2 separate regions of the Homo sapiens genome follow, and region 1 is linked to region 2. Evidence: fine-mapped expression QTL. Tissue or cell type: subcutaneous fat. Region 2 holds a variant in brackets; the other region holds the start of a gene. All regions are shown on one strand. Distances are from middle to middle.

Region 1 (8,000 bases), 970 kb before region 2:
TGCCAAAAATCTTAAAAAGGTGAAAGGGGCTGAACTTCAGGGAGCAGAATCAGAGATATGTGCACTTACTTCTGAACTCCACCCCTCCCCACTCTCTGGAAATGTATATAGGGGGGCCTTAACCCTTCCAGAAGGAAGCAAAGGATTCACTCAAAGTTGCATTCTTGAAAATATATTTCCACATGTGTTTTTTTCAGCACTGTGCTTACAACCAGTTCTGGGTGATTAAAGGAAAGGGAAAAAAACCAACAAATGGTCCAACATTTTCCTTCTGGGGAAAGAAAACAAAACCTCTATGCACTGGGTCATTAGATAATGACTGAATTTTCTGTTCCAACTGGATTCCAAATGCCCTAAATACCCTCATATAGCAGTGTTTTACAGGAATTAGTGTATGGCCTGTGTAGGGGAGGGGCTGTGCAGTGGGGAGAAAGTGGGAAGGTGAGGAACTCTTGCTTTAAGAAGGAAAAAAAAAAAACCCTAATTGAATCTAGAAGTCCACAAAAGTTAGCCTTAGAGTTTTTTTCCCCCTGAAGTTTTAATTTTTTTAAAAACCAAATCTAAGGAAGTTTTCCTCAGCTCATTAATTAGAAGCAGAATTTGTAAAAGTATAAAAGTTTTCAAGCACTCGTCTTTGCCTTGAGAATAGTGGTTTTTTAAAGAATCACTCTCAACAGGGGAGATGTCCTCTAGTCGTTTTTCTTCTGCCTCTCCTGGGAAGGGTTCAAAGTTCATTTTTCTAAAATGCTGACCCTCAAGCATAAGGAGGAAGAAGTCAAAGTTAATGGCCAGAGTTCATATACTCAGATGAAACCAGTCTTCCCAAGGCCTCAGGCTCCAAAAAAGGTTGTAGCTATCAAAAAGTGACCAAAGTGGGAAAGGGAGAAAGGATAAGCTTAAAATTTAATTTTAAGATCCAGAAGGGGGGTATTTTTTTCAGTACTTCAAAAACACTTTAGAAGGTTTCTGTTGTAATTTAAAAAATATATTTAAGTGGGAGGGAAAAAAGAGTTTCTCTGTAGGCTTGTTCTTTGGCTGTGTCTCCTGAGAGCTGAGGGCAGGTATTCACTGCAGTCCCTAGGCTGAAATTCCGCTTCTCTGAAGTGTCTTCCAAGCCTTGGTCTTTTGTATTAGACCCTGGGGACTGCTCTTTGTTTCTCCTTGGGGTGAGCCTGGCTCTCAGACTTGCACATGGCAATACTTGAATGTCACCACGTCGGGATATTAAAGATGGATATTCGTGCATTATTCACATCATTGTTTCTATGACAAAAAGCACAGAGTTCATACATAGTCAAGACGTCTTTTTTCTGACGCCCTCACGTTGAGAAGCTGAAAAGGTATTTTACCGAAGTTCGGGTAAATTACAGAATCAGGTTCATCCAGAGGACAAATTTTCTATTTGATTAGCTGTATTTCAGCCGGGAGGACTGACCTCTAAACCCCTAACCTTTTGGACTCTAACTACCCTTCTCTTCTTTTTTCCTCTCTAACATGGAGAGCAGTCTTTGGATGTACCATTTGAAAGGAGCCGCTATCCTTAGGCAAGTTGGAAAGTTGCTAAGCTGCTTTCCTAAAACCCAAATCTGTCTATACATTGAACCTTCTCTTTGAGAAGGGGAAAAAGGTATATATTTTCACAACATCCAATTACATATATATAATAGAGATTTGTTGTATAGATTTTCCCCCACCTCAGAAGTTCAGGTTACTCACCCCCAGTTTCATACCAAATGCCACACAGGCTTAACTGACTGCATCCCTGCCCCAGAGGAAAGCCAAGAAACATGTTTTCATGAGGAAAACCCAAGCTCCTTCTCAAACATAGCCCCACTACTTTGGAAAGTAACTTAATCAGAGAAACAACTTCTTTGTTTATAAGTCTCAGCTCTCCTTCTCAGCTTGGAGGGATTCTTTTGAAATGTTAATGGAGCCTGGATGGCCCAGAGTGCAGCCCCCAACCCTGAGGTCCCAGTCGGACCCCAGCATCCATTTGGGCCCACAGGAGTGGGCCAGGGAAGGGGTAGGGCCCCGTAACCACTTAGGGCAGGGAAGGAAATGGGTTTCCATCTGAGAACGTGCTTTGGAGAAAGCTAGGTGTGGAAAAGCTCCAATGCCCATTTGCTATTATTTGTTTCCAGTTTGTTCCTTTAAATATGAGCCAGAAGTGTTTGTGTTGGTGTTTTAAAAACAAAAACAAAAACCGTGTTGGGGTCCTGACTGGGGGAGGGGGAGAGTGAAGTGTTTGCTGAGGACATTGCTCCTCTGACTCCCATCTCACTTTGTCCATCGCAGCCTTTTGTTGGGAGATGACACTGTCAGTCAGCCCATGATGTCTGTTCACACGAGATGCTTTTTTAATAGAATTGACCAATGTTTTGCTGCCACTGATTAAAGTATTATTTATACTAATTGTTGCTTGTAGTTTTGATGTAATTCATTGATCTATATTTAAAATAATAAAAGGTGTAGCAAAATCTCCCTCCTGTTTGGTGCCTTAACAGAAGCATTCATCCTTTGTTAAGTCTTCTAAAAGCTAACATTTAACATAAACAAGTTATTATTTTCTGCAATAAATTAGGCACCATTTTTTGGGGGGTGCCTAAAGTGTGAAGGTTAAACCATGTAAGGCTTAGCAATTCTATTATTACCACCTCCTTAATGTACACACACTCCCAGTTGGCCACCATATTTTGTGAGCATTGGGAAGCCTGGGGTTGAATTCAGGGTACAGAGTGTTGGGTGTTAATTTTTTGAAGAAAAAGTAATTGCCCAGGTTAATAGGGGGATCCAGGTTGGCATTCTGCTGGGCCCGGGCCAGGCCCCAGACCTTTTTGGTCTGGAAGCCCTCAGAGGAAGTCTTTGGGAAGTGGTGGATGAGACACCTTACTGGTCCCCCACCCCTAAGGCAGGGAGAGCGTGCTGGGTTCTGGGCCGAGCTGAGGCTCCTGGGTGGCTGCTCTGACCTGACCCCCGGGCCTCCACTCTTGGGCTTCTACTTTTCCAGTACTGTTAAGCTCCTGTGGGGACTCCAGCACCTGCCCCTCCTTCTTCCGCGCCCCCTCCACCCCTCAGGCAACAATAAACACTCCCCACTATAAAAAGTGCCCTGCACTACATTTACCGCAAGGGCTTCTTTACATCTTGGCCTCGCCTTGAAGAAGGGGCCAAGACAGGAGTCCCAAAATAGATGGGGGTGCTTGTTCCAGACAGGAAATGAGCAGAATGCATAAAATCAGACATCTGTCCTTAATATATGGAAGGGCTTGCCCCAGACGCGTGGACATGTGTATTTATAAGTGCGCAGGCAGAAGTTTAAATATTCAGACACATTTTATGATTGTCCTCTGCCCGTCTTCTGCTTAATGGCTCCTCCCGTGCCCACCAATACATCAATACCGTTGTGTGTATTGAATCGCGGGCAGGGATGAGGAGGAAGCGAGTCCATAGCAGAGCCCGCTGAGTATAGAGTACAGTAAATCGGGACCCTCGGCGGACGGCGCTTCCCGCCCGCCTGCCCGCCATGTTGGGGAGCCCTCCCTGCCCCCCGCGCCGGGCTGGGCGGCCGGGGCTCGCTGGCAGCCGGGGGAGGGCCTTTCATAACCCGGAGAATTTTCTAAGTGCGAGGAAGATGATAAGAATAGATTTCTACAAGTCCCGACCACGTGATTGGCGAAATAATTAATTCAGCACGTCCCTTAAGAAACACGGAGTCGTCATTAATCTGCCACGCAAAGGGCTCTCTCCGACTTGGAAAGTGCAGGGATCCCAAGAATATCACCCGTCCAGGGGGGCCGCGCGGTGCCCCCGGCCCTCCACCCCCGGCCCCCGGCGGGCGCGGGAGCGCGGCCGCAGGTAAATATTTTGGCAACTTTTATTTCATCAGATTTAAATCCTTAATGAACTTAGCTGTCACGGCCGCTGACAAATAGTTCCCTTTGCTTCCTGATTTGGAACTGCGCGCCGGCGAGAAGTTGTTAGTGGCTTGGATGGTGACCTTTGGTTCAGCAAAGCTTTGCACTTATGAAAAATTACTGAGAGCGGCCGAGTGTGTGTGTGTGTGCGTGCGTCCGCGCGCGCGCTTGTGTGTGTGAGAGAGGGAGAGACAGAGACAGAGACAGAGATAGGGAGAGGGTGTGTGTGCGAGGCGCTAGGGTGCCAGGGGGCGAGGGGTGAGGGGCGAGGTGCACGCGGGCTGCTCCAAGACAACAGGAGTTGTAAAAAACCGGCCCGGCTGGCGGACGCGCCTGGCGCACGCGGGCCGAGGTTGCCTGGTCGCCTGTGTCTACCAGGAACAATGGTCGCTGTCACGGCATCTGCCGCCTATTCTTAAACCGGTGAGAAAAGGCCCTGGCCCTCTTTTCAAGCGAGGGTCGTAAATTTTTCTTTGCGTCATAATAGAAGGCTATAAAATCGAGTTGAAATTTTACCCCAGGCAGGTTTTAACCAACAGATAATGATTTCCGAGTTGCCTCTCCCCCCGCTCCTCTCTCCCCACCCAAGTTCTGCTGCCTCTGTCACCCCAGCGAGTTTCTTCTTCTTTCCCGTTTATTTTTGTGTTTGTATTTTTTATTTCTATTTTGGAAGAGCTAAAATAAACGCGAGAAGAAGTCCCTGCAGCCCGAGTGGGAGACCCCGGGGCGACGGGAAGCCTGGGGAAAGGAGGATGGGGGAGAGGCCAGTGCGGGCTGCAGAAGGCTGTTTCTCTGCTCGCTCCCGTTTCTGCCTTTTTTCACCGGCACTCCAAGAAAATTGGGTGTCCTAAGAGCCACTCCGCTCCGTTCCACCCCATCCCCAGCTTGCCAGGGTCGTGGGCTGGGGCAGTAGCGAGCATTCTTTTCTTCCAGCTTGCAGCTCCGACCCGGGCGCCTCTTCATTCGCCTCCTTCCCTCTTGTTGCTGTGAGATACCTCCATTGGCTTTCAGAATGATTTCAGCGAGCAGGGGCTGGCTGCGCGTGGTGGTTGTTTTGGGATTATGTGTGCGTGTGTGTTTGTGTGTGTGTGTGTTTTCATTTATTTTTTGGTGTGTGTATATTTCCCCGTCAGGACAGAAACAAAGTTTCCCCCATTATGAATTATACATTCAAACAATAACACATTAATTCAATTATTCAAAGATGACAAATGTTTATGTGCTTTGCGAGTGACTCGGGCGCAGATTCCAGGCGCTTTCTCTGAGCTGCTTGCATTTTTCTCAATGAGAATCGTCTCCCCTCCCACCCCCCCCACTCCAACCCACTCCAACCCACCTAGATATCCCCTTGTAGGCCCAGAGAGGAACCCACAAAAAGCTTCCCCAGCCCTGCTGGCAGCCCGGCAGCCAACAGCCTCCCAAGGCCCCGGCTTGGCGGGCACTGGCCCGGGCTATTTTATCAGTGTGACAATTGCCCGGGTTGGTGTGATAAATCATCGTAAGTAATTCCTGAAAGGGTGCGAGACTGTTGGGGGCCGGGCGAGGACTGTAAATCTTTCCGGTTTATTGCTCTATGAACATATGCTCCGATTGAAGAAGGCTTAGATCCTTTCCTGGAGACAAATTCCCGCAAAGCAGCCCCCCTCTTTGGCTGGGGATTAACACTTGCTGCTGGCCGTCAGGTCGGCCTCTGGCAAGAGGCTAGGGGGCGGGGTCCTCCGGGTGGGGGTGGGCTGGGGTCACCCACGATCCGGCTTCGAGAGACGCCCCGAGTGGGCCTCTGGCCAGGCCCGGCCAGGTGAACAAAAGGATGGGCTCGTAGACGGTTCTGGGGGCTCGGGCCTCCAGGACATTCCTGCGCCTCTGGAGTGGGGATGCGGTGGACCTTACCCACTCCTCTGGGGCTCTTCTATGGCTGCTGGGCACTTTCACCGGTCTCAGACCCTGCAATCAGCAACAGAGCATTTCACTGTGCCTGATGCCGCTGAGCAGAGCTGGCAACGAAACCAAAACTTCGGGGACAGGGTGGAGAGTTCCCCGTGGTGCGGGATTCCCGAGTGTGGCCCCGGCTGGGGGAGGGTCTTGGGCGCTCATTACAGGCCAGGAGGTCCGCTGCTGGCGCTGGCACGCTTAATTCTTTTTTCCCACATTGCAGAATCATTCCCACCAGCCACTCGGAGAGTGGTGGGAATCTGTCTTGGTTTAATATTTCTAAAATATAAGTTTCATTGTCCCCCAGGTTAGCCCAGCCAGGACTCATTGCGCAGTCCTCCTCGCCTTCCTGGAGGCGCCGCAGGAAGCGGGAAGTCGCGGCTTGGCGGTTGCTGGGCCTGTGGGATCTGCGGGTCCTGCCCAGACCTGGAGTCGCACAGATCACGGCGGGCAGTGGCTCAGCGCCTAGGCGGCTCCAGGCCTCGAAGGACCAGGTTGGGGTGCTCAGGGATCAGAGAGGGGAGGTCGCTCTGGGTCCGGGTCGCCTGCTACGCGCCTTTTCTGTCTCAGAAGTGGCGGTGACTCGGCTGCTGAGTCCGCGGAACGAGCCACGGAATGGTGGTGGTGGCGGGGTTTTCTGAGGTGACTGGCCAGAGCTGAGAGTCGCGGCTTCCACCTTTGGGCCGGAGCGGGTCCTCGCCCTGGGAGGAGCTGGGCGTCGGCCTCCGCGGCGGGGAGGCCGCCTTGCCGGGGTGCATGAGGCTGCGGAGTACTCCGCGGGCCCGGGAAGCTAGGGGTACCCTCAGCCTCTGCTGCTCCACGGCAGTCTCCAGAGACGCTTCTAAGAGAGGCAGTTTCTAAAATTTCCAGCTCCCGGACCAGTCTGGCGGAAGGCCCAGCCAGGGTCAGAGGTCGTTGTGGGGAGAGACTCTCAACGCCCCCAACCCACTGAGGGCGGCCAGGCCAAGACTGAGTCGGCCCGGAGCTGCGAAAATGTGTTCTTTCCTTCCGCCCCACACCCATCCGCGTCTGCCCCAGGAATGGGGCCCAGGTCCCAAGCCTCCTGCGCCCTTCCTTCCAGCCCCCAGGCTTGGCTGCGCTCCGGGACTGGGTGGCGTGAAAGTTTCAGCCTCAATCAGTACAAGCTTCCCTCGGGGTCACGTGAACAAATATGCTTGCATTTGAAGGCAGCGTCTGTATTTCCCGACTATGAGGGGGTTTCCGGGGCTCTCTCCAAATCCAGAAACGACCACGTTCCGCAAGCAAAACAAATCCCAAGCTCTGGGGGGCCTGGGAGGGCTGGGCAGAAACCCAGGAGTGGGTGGGGGCGCGGGTGGCTGCCGCTCTGGGCCCGAGAGCGGACGGGCGGGCGGGTGGACCGATGGGCGCGCAGCGCAGGCGAAGCCAGCTCGGGGACTACGAACTCGTTCCTCCTGCGTTTATTGGTAGTTGAACCTCAGCCTGGTTCCGTTCTACCGGGAATTCCGTGTGCTCGAGTATATGGCCGTGTCTGCGAGCGCGCAAGACCAGGGTTGGGACAGTGTTGTCTGCAGACAAAGGGGGAAGGCTAGCTCTGCCCCCCACTGGCGCCCACTCTGAGGCCGAGGACACCAGGTTTATGATAAATTGGGATCCAGGTAAGCAATTGCATGACAAAATGGAAATCTTTGGGCACGGGGCTGCTTGCCGCCCTGAGCGGGATATTAAATATGATTTATTTTGTGTAATCTGTGATCTTGATTATTGCCAATTGGTGAGGCAGCCCGCGTAGACCTAGATACACTGCTACATATACATGGAGGACGGTGATTAATCGTAACAAGGCGCGCTTTGTGGGGACGTTCCCCGCCTACCAAAGGGTTAGGAGGACACTACCTTGCCAGGCTTGGAGGGTGGCCGGCAGCATTGGGGGTGGTAGTAGCAGTTTAAGGAGGGGATCTGGTGAGGGGATTGAGTGCTGGAGGAAATATTTGGGGGCTAAATGTGCACTTAGGAGAATGGGCTGAAAAAGAAATTAAAACTTTTTTACACTTTACTGCCAAAGTAAGATGGAGCGTCATATTAATTCTGTGTCTTGAGCTGCCGGGCTGGGTGCAGGCGGGTTGATTTATATGTATTTAAAATAAACTCGGTGGTCAGCCAGCTCCCTGCATT
Region 2 (8,263 bases):
TTGAATGCCATGGGATTTTCAATTCACTCAAAAACCAGTGCTTATGCTGCTATGTTTTCATTACACATTTTCCTTACCTTCCCCAAATCCTAGCTTTATCCACTCTTTCATTTATTTGTGTTTATTCACCAAATCTTTATTTAACACTACTGTGTTAGATTTTAATGCGAGAGGAATTTTTTACACCTGCATTTCTCTAACTTCCCATATCTGAGGAAGCACCTGAAACACAGAGCTCAAGACCAGCACCACTTAGCTAAAAGTCTGGTCAAAAGATCACATTGATGATAATTGTAAATGAACTGACTATAGGGTCCAAAAGATTCCATGTTGCATTCAGAGTAAAATGCAACATGGCTTTTTGTGTGGCTCCTGCTGACCTCTCTAGGAACACCTCCCCCCACTCTGCACCAAATATTTTAGAGAGCTCAAGCATCTCTTCCTCCCAGAAACATTCCTAAAGTCCTAGCCTCCTCCCCATCTCCACTGTATCTACCACAAGGTACTCTAATTTTCTGCTGAACTGATCGCTCCTCCTAGAGGCCAGTGGTTCTCAAGCTTTATGGAGAATCAGATTTAGTGGGTCTGGGGTAAGGCAAGAGAATATGCAATTCTAACAAGTTTCCAGGGATGCCAATGCTGCTGGATAGAGATCACACCTTAAGAATATCTGCTCTAACCTACCAGTTCTAACAAGAAAAAAATCCCAATTTACTTTATTTTGTATCCCTGATACCTAACACAGTATGGCATACAGTAGACAGTCAAACGACATTTGTTGAATAGAAATAATGTATGAACTAGTGAATCCCTTGTTATTTTGTGTTGAATGGAATGACAAATTGGTCTCCAAGTGTAAGAACCCAAGACACTCCTCCATCAGTATTAAGTTACCTCTTATAATAAGTAGAGGGAAAGTGCTCCTCTCCTGGCCTCTGAGCTCCAGCATACTATCTGGTGCTGCTGAAAGTACAACTTGAAAATGCAATTTATTTTAGACAGGTTCTCACTCTGTTGCCCAGCCTGCAATGCAGTGATGCAATCATAGCTCACTGCAGCCTCAAACTCCTGGACTCAAGCGATCTTCCTTCCTCAGCCACCCAAGCAGCTGGGACTACAGGCACATACCACCGCACCTGGCTACAATAATTTTTGCATTTTTTGTAGAGATGGGAGTCTGATCTAAATTTTATTTTTAATACATAAAATTATGAAAGGCTTGATTTGGCTGAAGACAAAAATGTAAACAAACCTTCTCTATGGTTAAATATTCCTTCTTTAATAGTATTCATATGCAAATAAGTAAAAGAAGACAAGTAAGATACTGGCATTAGAAATATGTCTTGAAGGCCACTAAGTTTATTTCAAAAAAAGTATGAAGTGCTCTTTCCCAAGATCAATACCTTAAATCAAGTTGACCAAATTTATTTGATAATCTGAGAGTTTTGTTTAAAGTACAGATACCCAGGACCCTCCTGTGGAGAGTCTAAATTTCAACAGCATATAATGGGGCCCCCAGAAATCAGTCTTTTTTAACAAGTTTCAGGTGGGGCCCACATAGTGATTGCTTTAAGCTGCCCATCAATTAACTAACTAATTAACAAGCAGCTAGTACTGAGAACCACTGCAGGAACTCACGTAAAAATTTTCTCATGAAACTATTTTTGGCCTAATATTTTTCACCTGGAACAGGTTAGGTCATGGTGCAAAAAGCCAGGTTCTCAATCTGGAATGTTACTTTCTTGCCCTTTGGTTTCCTGGAGGGAATAAATGTGTAAGGCATTTCTACCACAGATCAAGTTTTGCGTCATGACACAATGGGGCATGAGCCACTCCAACAATAACAATAGAACCATTAGTCAAAAGACCTCAGGAAAAAGGGAAACCTGTCACAGGATGACGACAATTACCCAATTATTCTGAACATAAAAAGTAAACCTTTAATATTTGTCTTATGGCATCAGAACTATGGCATGATCTGGAGAAGTAATTAGCATATTGGAATTTTATGCTGGTACAATGTCAGGGTAAAATAAAGGTGGGCTCTGGAATGTACGGTGGGGAGGGTGGAACTAGAAATGGTCTTGCATTTGAGTACAAATATGGTGGTATCAACAATTAACTTTCCGCTAAAAAATAGTTTTCCTGTTTATACGTATGTACTGGTAGAAAAAAATTTGATGTTGTTAGATATTATGTTTGGAATAGGACTTCCTTTGAGATAAGGTTATTTAAGATGATAATTTTAATTCAGAAAGTGAAATGTTCTATCTTTTAAAAAATCAGATTATCTTGAAATCATACGTGCTTTCCTACCTCACTTCACTCACTTGCCTTCATGTTAAATCTCAAGAATAAAATCCAAGCATTTCAGCAAATCACTCTACATTGACCTCTGCCCAAAGATCTAGAGGAGGCCAGTCAGGCTTCGAAAGGACTGAGGCACTTCGGTTCATTAAATTGTTTAATATGAGCACTAATTTTTACAATCGTGTAATAAAAGTAGGTGTTTTCCAAAATGAACCGTAGACAAAGATAGAAAAGAATATATGCCTCTAGGACACACACCCATGGGGACTTTACAGCTAAGAAGTCGTTATTTTGCTAAAAATTAGTGTTGCAAAGTGCCATTCATTGTTAGCATAGCACCAGCACATAGGAGTCACCAGATGAATGTTTGATGACATTAGTTTTCTTTTATAACTGCCCATGTCTTTCATTAAACAATGACCATCAAAGAAATTATTTCTTACAAAAGAACAATTTGAGGAATGAGAGGCTGCAAATGTACAAACTACAGTTCACTGCATTTTTAATAAGAATTTTGAGCACAATAAAGATTTTATATCCAAATATATTATGAAAAAATGGATGCTAATGCTATGTTAAAAGGTTACCACACTAGGTTTATTTGCCTCTTTCTTCTTTTCTCATATCCTAAGTCATAGGCTTTAAAACAAAATCAGGTCTGAGATTCATGTAATCGTCCCCATTTTAGTGTCTGTGCCGTCTTTGGGCATCACTTGGTCCTGTCCGCCAGTGATCATGAAGGGAGCCTGGTCTGCACTGGCTAGGAAGGGAGGCATTGCAGCAGGCTCTGCCTCGGTCCACGCTTCACTCCCACCCGATCCCCCACTGACTCAGCTCATCTTCAACATCTTGTGTGGAAGATAAAATCATTGTGATGTACAGAAAAATCTACACCGAAAACAGGAATAAGAACAACCTCCCTCTCTCCTATCACCTGAATTCACATGGCTACTTAAAGTTAGTAAATTCAATAAAATTAGAGTTTAGTTCCTCAGTTGCAGTAGCCACACTTCCAGTACTCAATAGCCGTCTGTGCCTAGTGGCTACCATATTCATTATTGCAGGGATAGGAAGGTCTATTGGACAGCGCTAGTCTCCAGAGGGCCAGCTAAGGAGGGGAATAACGGTCCCCTAACCACTTGACACGTTAGCCAAGGAGGAGGAAAGAAAGAAACAGTGTAGTTCCCTTTTTTCCTTAGAAAACTGTTTTACTTCCACCAAAACTAGCCTGAGTGGATTCCATCCTTTCTCTTCCCCAAATCTTGCCTCCTTCCTGACTACAGTGGGGAAAGAAGTGGTAGTGTGTGAGAGATTTTGAAAGCAATTTTAAAAAACCAAAACAATGCATATATCTTGTATTTCGAATGGGCCAGGCACATTGGCACAGTGGCTCATGCCTGTAATCCCAGCACTTTGGGAGGCCAAGGTGGGAGGATCACCTGAGGCCAAGAGTTCAAGACCAGCCTGAGCAAGATGGTGAGACCCTGTTTGTAAAAAAAAAAAAAAAAAAAAAATTAATTAGCCAGGTGTGGTGGCACACACCTGTGGTCCCAGCTACTTGGGAGGCTGAGGCAGGAGGAACCCTTAAGCCCACAAGTTCTAGGCTGCAGTGAGCCGTGATTTTGCCACTGTGCTACAGCCTAGGCGAGAGAGACAGACCTCATCTCTTTTTTTTTTTTAAGTGATATGCCTGCATTTGCATTGCTGGCTCATGCTTGAAACCAGCTCACTGAGGTAACTTCTATATGGAAGTTGCTCCTGTAATCCCTAGGTGTTCCACATGGGCACATTGATTCAATTGAAGTTATTTTAGTAAGGCAATCATCATACTGATTGTTACTTGGAATTCGTATTCATGCTGCTTTAAGTAATAGCCTTTAACTTAATTTCAAAGCTTTAAAATAATTGTTTTAATATTGATGAAGACCGGTCTTGCTACCAATCTTAAATAAAAATCTTATTGGCAACAATCCTACATATATTAGAATATAAAAAGAATAATAACCAATAGTAATGAAGTCATTTTTTTCTTCTTCATGTCTGAAGAGCACACCCTTCTATTTCCAACACACATGGGTGAAGCTGAAGAGACTGACTATGGTAGACATTAGTAACATTCCCCCGTATTCAAGTGTTCTCCACTTCAGGACACACAAAGATTATAATTCCCCCATCCCCCTTATTTTATACATAGCTATGTAATTATTTCTGGCCAATGAAATGAGAAAAGGAAGTGAAATGCATTGTTTCCAGGCAAAAGCAGTAATTGGCAGTCTGTGACTCCATTTTTCTCTTCCTCTCTTTGATGAGCTCTGAAGTACTGCAAGGGCAGGTCACTATCTGAAGATGGTCAAACCTCCATCTCTCTAAAACATGATCTT[C/T]CTCTGCTGGCATAAGAAACTGTTAGTGTTACTTTGAGATATGAAACCAGATTTTTTCATGTGTCTGTCAGTTAAATACCATTATTTAATTCTTTTAGGGCTCTTTTTGAGAGTGAGTCTCCAATAAAACTCTATTAGGATGTGCTATGGTTGTTTTTTGTTTAAGGTGGAAACAGAGTTTTGCTATGTTGTCCAGGCTGATCTCAAACTCCTGGACTCAAGTGCTGAGCCTCCCATCTCAGCCTCTCAAAATGCTGAGCCTCCCATCCTAGCCTCCCAAAATGCTGAGATTACAGCATTTGTAATGCCACATTAAATCTTGTGCCATGGATTTAATCAAACACAAACACATCAGGCTGAGCGTGATGGCTCATGCCTATAATCCCAGCACTTTGGGAGGCTGAGGCAGGCAGATTGCTTGAGCCCAGGAGTTTGAGACCAGCCGGGGCAACATGTTGAAACTCTTTCTCTACCAAAAATCACAAATTAGCTAGGCGTGGTGCGGCACCTGTAGCCCCAGCTCCTCAGGAGGCTGAGGTGGGAGGATCACCTGAGCCTAGGGAGGTCAAGGCTGCAATGAGCCAAGATCCCACCAACCTGGGCTGTGTGCCTGGAGCTGTCCTTTCAGTACCATCTGAAATGTCATCCGTGCCCTGACACCACTGCTGTATATTATGTGCGTGTAGGTGAGCTTCATGTGAACCTTCCCTGACACGTCTTCCCTCCTGTGCTCATTGGAGTGGACCTCCATTGTGCATATCATGGTGCACTGTTAATTATTCATATTTAAGACAGAGAACTTCTGGGAGGGTGTCTTATATTACCCTTTTTCCTCCAATATGTAGCACTTTGTCCGAGAGAAGATAAGTACCAAATGTTTGCATGGAGAATGAATAAACAGATGTATTTACAAGTCTGCTCATACCTGGAATGATCTAGAGCCACAAAGAGCCAACTCCCTTTCTTTACAATTAACTTCATGTTATTGTTGCCATATTTTAACACTCCTAAGATGACTGCCAATTAGCATACTATATTATAAAGTAAGAGAATGGTGAGTCATTTGTTGAAAGCCTTTAAAGATCATTCACTAGCACTCAAGGCAAATGATATATGGATAAAAATAGCCAAAAAAGCACAGATTGGGATGATATACTAATATAATTTTAGAAAAATGATTCCCAACTTTTTAGAAGTGTCATACTTCGTAATTGATTATTGGGTTTTATGACATTTCCTTATCCCAGCCTTAAAATGCTGTTGTTTTATATATTTACTTTCAAAAGGCCTAGGTAAGTGATCAGTTTACCCATATATTTCCTTCTATTTCTCCTTTTCAGTTTTGAAGACAGACAACAATTTTCCTCTATGTTACTTTCAACTATTATGCTCCAACCACAGCAAGAGTAACTCTGAAAGGTTAATCCCTTGGTTCTCAACCTGGCTACATCTTAGAATCACTTGGGGAACTTTGCTAAAAACACAGATGCCTAGGCCTCACCCCCAAGAGATTGTGATTTAGCTGACTTGGGTATGATCCAGATTATTTTAAAAACCCTACAGTCAGGATTGAAAACTACTAGTTTAGTCAAATCATCAGTTGGAAAGAACACTGGACTGGGAATAAAAGGGTCACTCATTCATTCAATACACATGCTTGTCAGCCTTCTCACCACCTACTGAATACTATACTAAGCCCTGGGATGCAAAGATAAATGAAGCACAGCCCTAGAGAGGTTCACCGTCTGACTAAATAGAAAAGTAAATTACTTAAGTGCTCTAATTAAAAGAAACAGGGGACTATGACAGACCAAAGGAGGAGGGGAATTACTTAATCCTGGCTGGGAGGGTTAGAAAATTCTTTTTGAAAGAACTACATTGTCCGGGATGTTGAACAAGGTAGCATTTAACCTGGCAAGAAAAGGATAACAAAGACATCCAATAGAGAAGACAACATTCATGAAGTATAAAATTGTGATACCGTCAGGGAACTGAAAGCAGTTAATGTGTCTAGAGCTTGCCATTGGGTAAGTCAGGGAGGCAGCTGTGGAAGAGGAGGGGGAAAAGCAGGCAAGGGCCAGGTCATGACAATCCAAGGGGCCTCAGTTCTGACAACAAAGTCATCACAAGGTCAGAAGCCACCTGGCTATCTATGAGATATACAGTGACACCTGAAATATATTGCCACTGAATTGCGATATACACCTTGCAATGAACTCCTGTTCCTGCCCAGCAACATGAAGGCATGGCCTACAGGGACAGGCCAAGGAGTGGCTTAGAGTGCTTTAGCTCCTCTGTAATACCTGTTTTTATTCGCCTCTTCCAGGGGCTATCTCAAATGAAAACAAAACCTTGTTGTTATACAAACACAGCTTCAGTACAAGTCCTTGAACACCTCTTCCAACTGCAGGTCCTCCCCTGAGCCCCATCCTGCCTTTGAAGTGGTATTACATTGTGGTTCAGCTCACAGTTTCTGGAATCAGACCATCTAGATCCAGATTCTGCCTCTTATTACTTACCAGCATTATTATCCTGAACAAGATACTTAACTTATCTAGGCCTTAGTTTACGTACCTGTAAAATGGAATTATAAACAGTACCTCTTTCAGAGGCTGTGAGAATGCACTGAATGTACAGCACTAAGCACAGGGTCTGGCACAGAGGCAGCATTCCATCTGTATTCGATCTAAAGCTCCACTGCAATCAAGGTGGTCCTCACTCCAGCAGCTCCCATGTCACAGGGACATGAGTGAGAAATGCCACAGCTTAGGCCCCACTTCCAGTCACCTAAACCAGAATCTGCTTTTTAACAGGATCCCCAGGTGATTCACATGCACATGAAAGTTTGAGAAACACCGCCACAAAGTATTATCTAGCTGCAGCATTCTAAAATTTTAAATCTCAAAAGCGGGGAATGATCCTGTTTACTCAAAGTAAGAGTGCTGAAGGCAATGGTTCTCGACCTTCACTGGGCATCAGAATCACATGGTGAACTTCTAAAGAAATCACATATGCCTGGGCCCAACTCCACCAACCCTATGCCACCTCCACCTCCCTAGAGATTCTGATTCTGTTGACCTAGGTGAGTGGAACCCAGGCATCTTTTTTTTTCTTTTTAACAAAGCTTCCCACATGATTCTAATGATATTGAGACCCACTGGTTTAAAGAGAGCATTAAATTCTGACAAAGTCTACATGGCAACTGGGCTTATCAGGAAAGGAAGCTGAGTCGGTAAAAAGAAGCTAATCTGTGAGTTGAGGAAGCAGTTCCACTGAGACCTGCCAGGCGTTTAAAACCTCCGCTGTTCTCCTCAGGCTGTAACGGCCTTACCTTCTCCATGTCTGTACCTGTGGTTTCTACTCCAGTCCTTCACTCCCCCTCTCCTTAAATCTTGATGAAGGCGCTTGACTCTAGCGTGGCACATTCACCTCCATTGCACCTCTGTCTGCTTCCTCCCCAGCAGCAGCCCTCTATGGCTCAGGTACTGTCTGGTGACTCAGTCCGTACTGCCCAGTGCCCCACTGTGTGCTCACCCACATCCTATGTTTTTGACCCAGGGCTGGTCCTCGAT

The links. PIP is the estimated chance that this variant, and not a neighbour inherited with it, causes the effect.
Region 1: it holds the start of HOXD3, and the variant in region 2 is fine-mapped to the expression of HOXD3 in subcutaneous fat (GTEx, PIP 0.95).

The regions. Positions count from the first base shown.
Region 1 is chr2:176,153,598-176,161,597 of GRCh38, forward strand. It overlaps HOXD3 (homeobox D3), which reads left to right and starts at 3,710. Exons shown (of 4, transcript NM_006898.5): 1 at 3,710-3,855. RefSeq lists an enhancer at 1,670-2,173.
Region 2 is chr2:177,122,731-177,130,993 of GRCh38, forward strand. All of the region lies in intron 1 of LOC105373760 (a long non-coding RNA gene), which reads right to left. Among named protein-coding and RNA genes, the nearest start is that of MIR4444-1, 86 kb to the right of the region's middle. The variant C/T (reference allele first, on the strand shown) is at 4,692.